2 linked regions of the Homo sapiens genome follow. The protein of the gene in region 1 interacts with the protein of each later gene in a pairwise test. Each region holds a gene or a part of one and is shown on either strand. Other genes may lie near its edges.

Region 1 (3,826 bases):
TTGCAGTTGACATCTTTAATAGGTCTGATGTATTGATATTAGCCAGAGATGGATTATCACTATAAATTTTTATTCTAGGCTAAACATTGAGGGATAGACAATTTTAATTACTTTATTTCTAGAAACTGATAGTAGTTATCTTTGTGACTCTCTTCGAGTAGAGTTGACACCAAGTATTTTATTTGCTATATTCAATCCTTAGTAAGAAAGCCATATATTGCCTGTAATATATGATGTTCATCTCAAAACTGTCGTTTGCTCAGTTGCCTGTGTTCCTTTGACCCGGTTGATATAAAGGGCAAGATGATATTGTTCTTCATAGAGAGGCCTTCTTTGTAATATCAAATGGATGCAATTTTTTACATTTAAAAAAAGCAGTTTGTTAATGACATTTTTACATTTATATTCACTTTATTATGACATGTTTTAACTTAAGATCATAAGTAACATTAGATAATATATTAATGTTTTCTATTTCCTCTAGGTTGTGCACCATCTCCAGGTGCTTATGATGTTAAAACTTTAGAAGTATTGAAAGGACCAGTATCCTTTCAGAAATCACAAAGATTTAAACAACAAAAAGGTAATATAGATCACCAAAGAACAATGGTTATGTGATCTTATAAGTTTTAAAGTTATGAATAACAATATTTAAAGATGTTATAGCATTTTTTAAAATGTGAAGCTAGAACTATATTTAAATTTTATTTGATGGATTTATGAAAGGGTCAAGTACAGAATAATGCTGTCATCATTACATTGTTATATAACCAGGAAAATTAAGCAAGATACTTATATTGATATGTAGCTTCCCTTTTGGTAATTACCTTGACTTGTCAGGGAATATTAGGAAAATCAGAAAGGTGTTAGATGTGTAAAAAAATTGTATGAGTAATTATTTGAAAATGTACAACTAAGGAAAGAATATATTGTTTCATCAAAAGTTGTAATTAGAAATTTGGGGCCGGGCAAGGTGGCTCGTGCTCGTAATCCTGGCACTCTGTGAGGCCAAGGTGGGTGGATCACATGAGTTCAGGATTTCGAGACAAGCCTGGCCAACATGGTGAAACCCCATCTCTACTAAAAATACAGAAATTAGCCAGGTGTGGTGGGGTGCGCCTGTGGTTCCAGCTACTAGGGAGGAAAGTGGGAGAGTTGCTTGAAACTGGGAGGCAGAGGTTGCAGTGGGCTGAGATGACACCACTGCAGTCCAGGCTGGGTGACAGTGAGACTGTCTCAAAAAACAAAAACAAACAAAAAGAGAAAGACAAAAAAATTTGGAAATTGTGTTTTGTGTGTAGTTAAAACACATTGACATCAACCATGATCTGTACAATTCATTTTTCCGCAGAATCTAAACAAAATCTTAATGTTGACAAAGATACTACCTTGCCTGCTTCAGCTAGAAAAGTTAAGTCTTCGGAATCAAAGGTGAGGAGCTTTTATATGCCAGCTGGTTTATCAAGTGTATCATCAAAAACATCTGAAAGTATTGTATTTGATTAGAATGGGTTAAGTGTATGAATCAAGGTTATAAGTAAATCTGTAAATTAATGAAATGAGTTATCATTAGAACTCTAGCAAGTTTTACATTTCTGCCTAGGTCATTATGTTTAAATGTGCCCTTAGTTCACAATTATAATGGTCTTCAATTCTCAATCACTTCTATGTTTAAATTGTTCATTACCTAGTAAACATTTCAAAATTATGTGATGCTTTGATTTATTAAGTACCACCATTTGAGTTGTTTTGTTTTTGTGTATTTGTTTGTGGGGAAGGGTAAGTGTTTTTGAAGAAAAGTGGGAAAAAATGCCAATATCTAAGAGAGGTTTGCTACTGAGAAACTGTTAAGGAGTGGTGAGAGATTAAATTCTTAATAGTCTTGTGGCTTGTGCAAGAGCTACTATTACTCTTTTCATAAGTTTATAAACAGGCAAGCTGCATAGTACTTTTTAAATTTTATTTATGTATTTTTTTTTTGAGATGGAGTATCACTCTGTCACCCAGGCTAAAGTGCAGTGGCGCCATCTCAGCTTACTGCAGCCTCTGTCCCCACAGGCTCAAGCGATTCTCCTGCCTCAGCCTCCCCAGTAGCTGGGATTACAGGCACGCCCCACCACGCCCAGTTACTTTTTGTGTTTTTGCTAAAGACGAGGTTTAAACATATTAGCCAGTTGGGCAGGCTAGGCTGGTCTTGAATTCCTGACTTCAGGTGATCAGCCCACTTTGGCCTCCCAAAGTGCTGGGATTACAGGTGTTGTCCACCACACCCAGCCGCCATATAATACTTTTTAAAAGACAGCTGGGGGGCGCACAGTGGTTCACGCCTATAATCCCAGCACTTTGGGAGGCAAGGCAGGTGGATCACTTGAGGTCAGGAGTTTGAGACCAGCCTGGCCAACATGTAGTCAAACCCCATCTCTACTAAAAAATACAAAAATGTGCTGGACGTGGTGGCACGTGCCTGTAGTCCCAGCTACTTGGGAAGCTGAGGCAGGAGAATTGCTTGAACCTGGGAGGCAGAGGTTGCAGTCAGCCAAGGTGGTGCCACTGTACTCCAGCCTGGGCAACAGAGCGAGACTCAGTCTCTCCAAAAAAAAAAAAAAAGACAGCCGGGCACAGTAGCTCACGCCTGTAATCCCAGCACTTTGGGAGGCTGAAGCAGGTGGATTGCTTGAGGTCAAGAGTTCGAGACCAGCCTGACCCACATGGTGAAACCCCGTCTCTACTAAAAATACAAGAAAATTAGCCGTGTGTGGTGGCACGTACCTGTAATCCCAGCTACTCGGGAGGCTGAGGCAGGAGAACTGCTTGAACCTAGGGAGGCAGAGGTTGCAGTGAGCCGAGAGATTGCACCACTGCACTCCAGCCTGGGCAGCAGAGCGAGACCTATCTCAAAGATAAAAATAAAGTAAAAAAGTTGTACAAATTAATAGGTTTTTTGATGTGAAAAATATTCAGAGTTGGAAAAAGGCTTAGGTTGTTCATTCATTTGGCAGTTGCCTAAGCCTCATATTCTGTAATATAGAGCTATGTTGTTCTGTATGGAAGCATAGCCACATGTGTCTATTGAGCAACTGAAATGTGGCTAGTGCTATTAAAGAACTAAATTTTTAATATTTAATTTTAATTAATACATATTTAAAGACATACTCGATTTTGTTAGTGGAACGCTTTTAAATATTTTTGGAACAACTTGAGTATGTGAATTTACTTTCTCCTTTCTATGTTTTATGAAATTAAATATACATAAACATTTCTGATGAAAATTTAGCATTGAATTAAGACGTGCTATAAGTGTAGAATACAAAGAAAACTTTAAAGACTTAGTACAAAAATATAAAACATCTCATTGATAATTTTATACCAATGACATGCTGAAAAAATATATTTGATATGTTGGGTTAAATAAAATATATTAAGATTTTTACTTTTTAAACACACTACTAGAAAAATTTAAATGCATAGGTGGCTTGCATTATTTTTATTGGGCAGGACTATTATAGACACTCTTTTCTTAGAAATTGATGTAAGTGGTTTGACTTAAATTTCTTGAAGAAACTGTTCTGTAATTTTGTAATTTATAAAGCCCCTTAGAAAACTAAATTACATACAAGTTTGTATGGAGCCCCAAAATAATAGTCCTTCCCCATAAAAAATTTCATGGAGTGTGAAATTAATAAACATGACACTGATGTCACCCCCACCTCCTGCCCCACTTAGAAACATCTGAAACAGATTTCATTCAAGATGTTGATGCCTTTCTTCCATTTTTAGATGGAAAAGATATTCTTTTTCTAGCCATTGTGTCAGAAAGTCTGTTGGA
Region 2 (3,826 bases), on another chromosome or scaffold:
CGTCAGGGTTCCCACTTCTTATGTCAGTGGTAGAACTTTTGAGGGAGACAGAGAATTACGCATTTCATTAGGTTTTGCAAATGTATTGTACAATTGTGCATAACATTTTCTATTTAAAAATCTCATATCTATTGTTATAGCCCTATCTCATATCTCATTTTTTTAGTGCCTTTTGCTTGTTATTGATTCTATTTGCCTGTTTGTCTATTTTATTGCTTTTTAAATAATGAATTCTGTTATACTGATTATTTTTAATTAAAACAGACCTTCTCTTGTTTGAGGGGTTAGTGTTTTATTTGCTAGTTTTTATGGCTATAGCCTATTTGAATAATCATCTCCAGTTCTTTCCAATTGGAACTTTCTCATTCAAGAGTTTCTTTTTTGGGGGCGTGCAGAGGGGGGTGAGCATCAGGATAAATAGCCAGTGCATGTGGGGCTTAATACCTAGGTGATGGGATGATTTGTGCAGCAAATCACCATGGCACATGTTTACCTATGTAACAAACCTGCACATCCTGCTCATGTACCCCGGAACTTCAATTAAAAAAAAAAAGAAGAAAAAAAAAAAGATTGTATCCTCTACTAAAGGAAGATGGGAAAATGCTGTTTGATTTAATCTGCCATCTCACTAGGTGAGCATCACATTAGTCATTGCTGCTCCTGTCACCTTCTGGTAATGATCATGCTTCATGTATTTTTATTTCCCTGTCATTACTCTCTTGTTTTTTCTCCTGGTTTTACCTAATAGATAAATGCCTTCTAAATGATTTTGTTGTCTCACAGTTTTTTTTTCTGAATATTTAGCCCTGTTTATTCCCAGAAAGGGGCACTTAAAAATACATATGACCCTAATCATGTGAGTGACTTTATCTCAAGGCTAAAGAATAGGCCAGCTGGTGCAGCCACTGCCAAGTGTCACCCAGGGGCCTGGGTGATGGTGGCTATTGCCACCGCACATGACATCAGGGAAGTGGAGGGGAAGCTTAAAGATCCAGTCTCTATGTTGCGGGTTCCCACCCAAATGTAGAGCTGTGGACAGAGGATTGATCAAAAAAAACAAAAACAAGGCTGGACTCAGTGGCTCACACCTGTAATCCCAGCATTTTGGGAGGCCGAGGCAGGCAGATCACCTGAGGTCAGGAGTTTGAGACCAGCATGGCCAATATGGTGAAACCCCATCAGTACTAAATATACAAAAATTAGCTGGGCATGGTAGTGTGTGCCTGTAATCCCAGCTACTCGGGAGGCTAAGGCAGGAGAATCATTTGAACCCAGGATGCGGAGGTTGCAATGAGCCAAGATTGCACCACTGCACTCCAGGCTGGGCAACAGAGTGAGACCCTGTCTCGAAAAAAAAAAAAAAAAAACTAAAGACAAAAAATGTAGGCTATAGAACCCATCTCCATGATAACACATTAGGGTCCTGCCCACATTGAGAGCAGGTGGATTTTCACCTTAGCTTTCTAGATGTGGAACGCAGTCTTTGTCAAGATGGCTTTTTCGTGTAATAAATTTGCAGGGAGGAGTTCTTGGTAATCAATCATCTTCATGAAAGGAGCTCTCCTTGAAACTGATTATAATCGCGCCGAGGCACAGAACTCTGGTGATGGAAACACTCTGTCTCTGTGTTGTTCATTACAGGAGCCAGCAGCCATGTGTGGCTTCTGGGCACTTGGAATGTGGCAGGTGCCACTGAGGATCTGAACTGGTATTTTCACTTGATGTTAATGAATTTAAATGTAAGCATTCGCACAATTATAAATGAAAATGCAATGCCTGTTTGGTGTGACTTTCATCACCAAAACCTCACTCTTTTATTGGAAAAAGTCTCATCCACTCTCACCAGAACCCTCCTTGCCTTTACAGATACACACGCCCTGGTAAGCCTTCTTCAAAATCTGAACAAAGCAAACTACAACCTGCCCATCATGGTGACAGATTCAGGGAAACCACCCATGACGAATATCACAGATCTCAGGGTACAAGTGTGCTCCTGCAGGAATTCCAAAGTGGACTGCAACGCGGCAGGGGCCCTGCGCTTCAGCCTGCCCTCAGTCCTGCTCCTCAGCCTCTTCAGCTTAGCTTGTAAGTTGACCTAACTCCAGTGCATGCACAAACAGGAAATTGTAACTTCACTGGGTTCGTGAAGCCAGCATTTTCCCATATACCTTTCCAAGAAGATGTTTCCCAGAAGAATCATTCATCTTTAGTGTATGTCTGTATGATAGAACATGTTATATGTAAAAGTGCTCCCACTGATGTTTAAAGGCATCTTAACAATCCCTGCCAGCCAGTCTGAGGGATTGTGCAAAGGTGTTCATTGCTAGCCTGCAAACTAGGTGGTAAGCAAAACTTCCTACAGCTGCCACTCAACTTGAGCTAATGAAAATGCGCCCAGATTAGTTAACTAGTCTATCAGAGGCCTGTTTCTCTCTACATTATGCAGAATAATCTTTTGCAAGGTTAAAACAGATATTATGAGACTTTCTGAGAATAGTCGTGAGAATTTATGGATGGAGGGTGGGCTGCAGGGAAAATGATAAATGCATAATTTACACTGTTTTTTCACTGGCTAGTAATAATGACTATAATATCATGAAACATTGTTTTTAACAAATGAATTATTATGCCAAGTAGTATAGATGTGAGGATAAAATTAATAAATACATGTCTCAGATATTCCTTATTTATGAAATACTAGTCCAATGTTAACTTTAGCCGTTATTCATATATAACTGTTACCATCCAAAAGCCTTTTGGGCCTTGCAATTTACCTTTTGAGAACGTATCGGTGTAATTGTGAATTAGGAAGTTGGGAAATTGACAGAAAAAGAAAACAGAAGGTTTTTTATCCTACTGACAGTGGTGAGCTGCCAGGAAATCACATAGTACAACATTGGACATTCACGTATATAAAGCTCTGTGCAAGACCAGAGTCCTGTGAGTAGAAGGAAAAATGAAGGGCCAGGCACGGTGGCTCACACCTATAATCCCACCACTTTGGGAGGTCGAGGTGGGTGGATCATCTGAGATCAGGAGTTCAAGACCAGTCTGGCCAACATGGTGAAACCTTGTGTCTACTAAAAATACAAAAATTAGCCAGCCATGGTGGCACATGCCTGTAGTCCCAGCTACTCGGGAGGCTGAGGCAGCAGAATCACTTGAACCCGGGAGGCGGAGGTTGCAGTGAGCCAAGATCATGCCATTGATCTCCAACCTGGGTGACAGAGCAAGGCTCTGTCTCAAAAAAAAAAAAAAAAAGGAAACAAGAAGCCATTATAGCATTTCACTGGCCCTTCAGACTGGGCATTTCTGAAAGCGAACATATCATCTTCCCCTCCTGACCTGCCCCTCTGCCTGACTTGTCTCTGATGACTGTACCACCACCATCATCATCACCATCATCTCCATGTCTCCTTCCTGGTCTTCCCACTGCAAAGCCCAACAGAGTCTAAGGGTCCAACACTTTCCATCCATCCCTGCCTCCACCCTCCTGTCTCAGGTACTAATGTCACTTAACCTCGATTATCTCACTGGCTTTCTAACTTTATCTTCTGCAAAGAGAGAGAGAAAATAGAAATCAAGAGGCCACCCCTCGGAGGCTTCTCCTGAGTCTTTTCTGTAAAGCAGAGACAATTTCAGATGAAGGGTTAGAGATGGGAGTGGGGACTGAGAAGAAATTAGGAAACCTTGTCAAAGCACAGATAATTCGGCTGTACAGCAATTGGGCTAAACGTTGAGCAGGGGTGGTCCAGAGGAGTTTGTATACTGTCTTAGTCCATTCGGGCTACTATAACAAAATACCATAAACTGGGTGGCTTATAAA

Evidence for each region.
Region 2: the proteins of HMMR (region 1) and CDH13 interact in a two-hybrid assay, tested with the Homo sapiens proteins (one large-scale study listed by BioGRID and IntAct).

What each region holds. Positions count from the first base shown.
Region 1 is NC_000005.10:163,463,372-163,467,197, forward strand, and holds part of HMMR (hyaluronan mediated motility receptor), read left to right. Parts: intron 1-484; coding exon 485-583; intron 584-1,351; coding exon 1,352-1,431; intron 1,432-3,826. UniProt on the Homo sapiens protein: Receptor for hyaluronic acid (HA). Involved in cell motility. When hyaluronan binds to HMMR, the phosphorylation of a number of proteins, including PTK2/FAK1 occurs.
Region 2 is NC_000016.10:83,781,388-83,785,213, forward strand, and holds part of CDH13 (cadherin-13 isoform 1 preproprotein), read left to right. Parts: intron 1-1,866; coding exon 1,867-2,085; intron 2,086-3,826.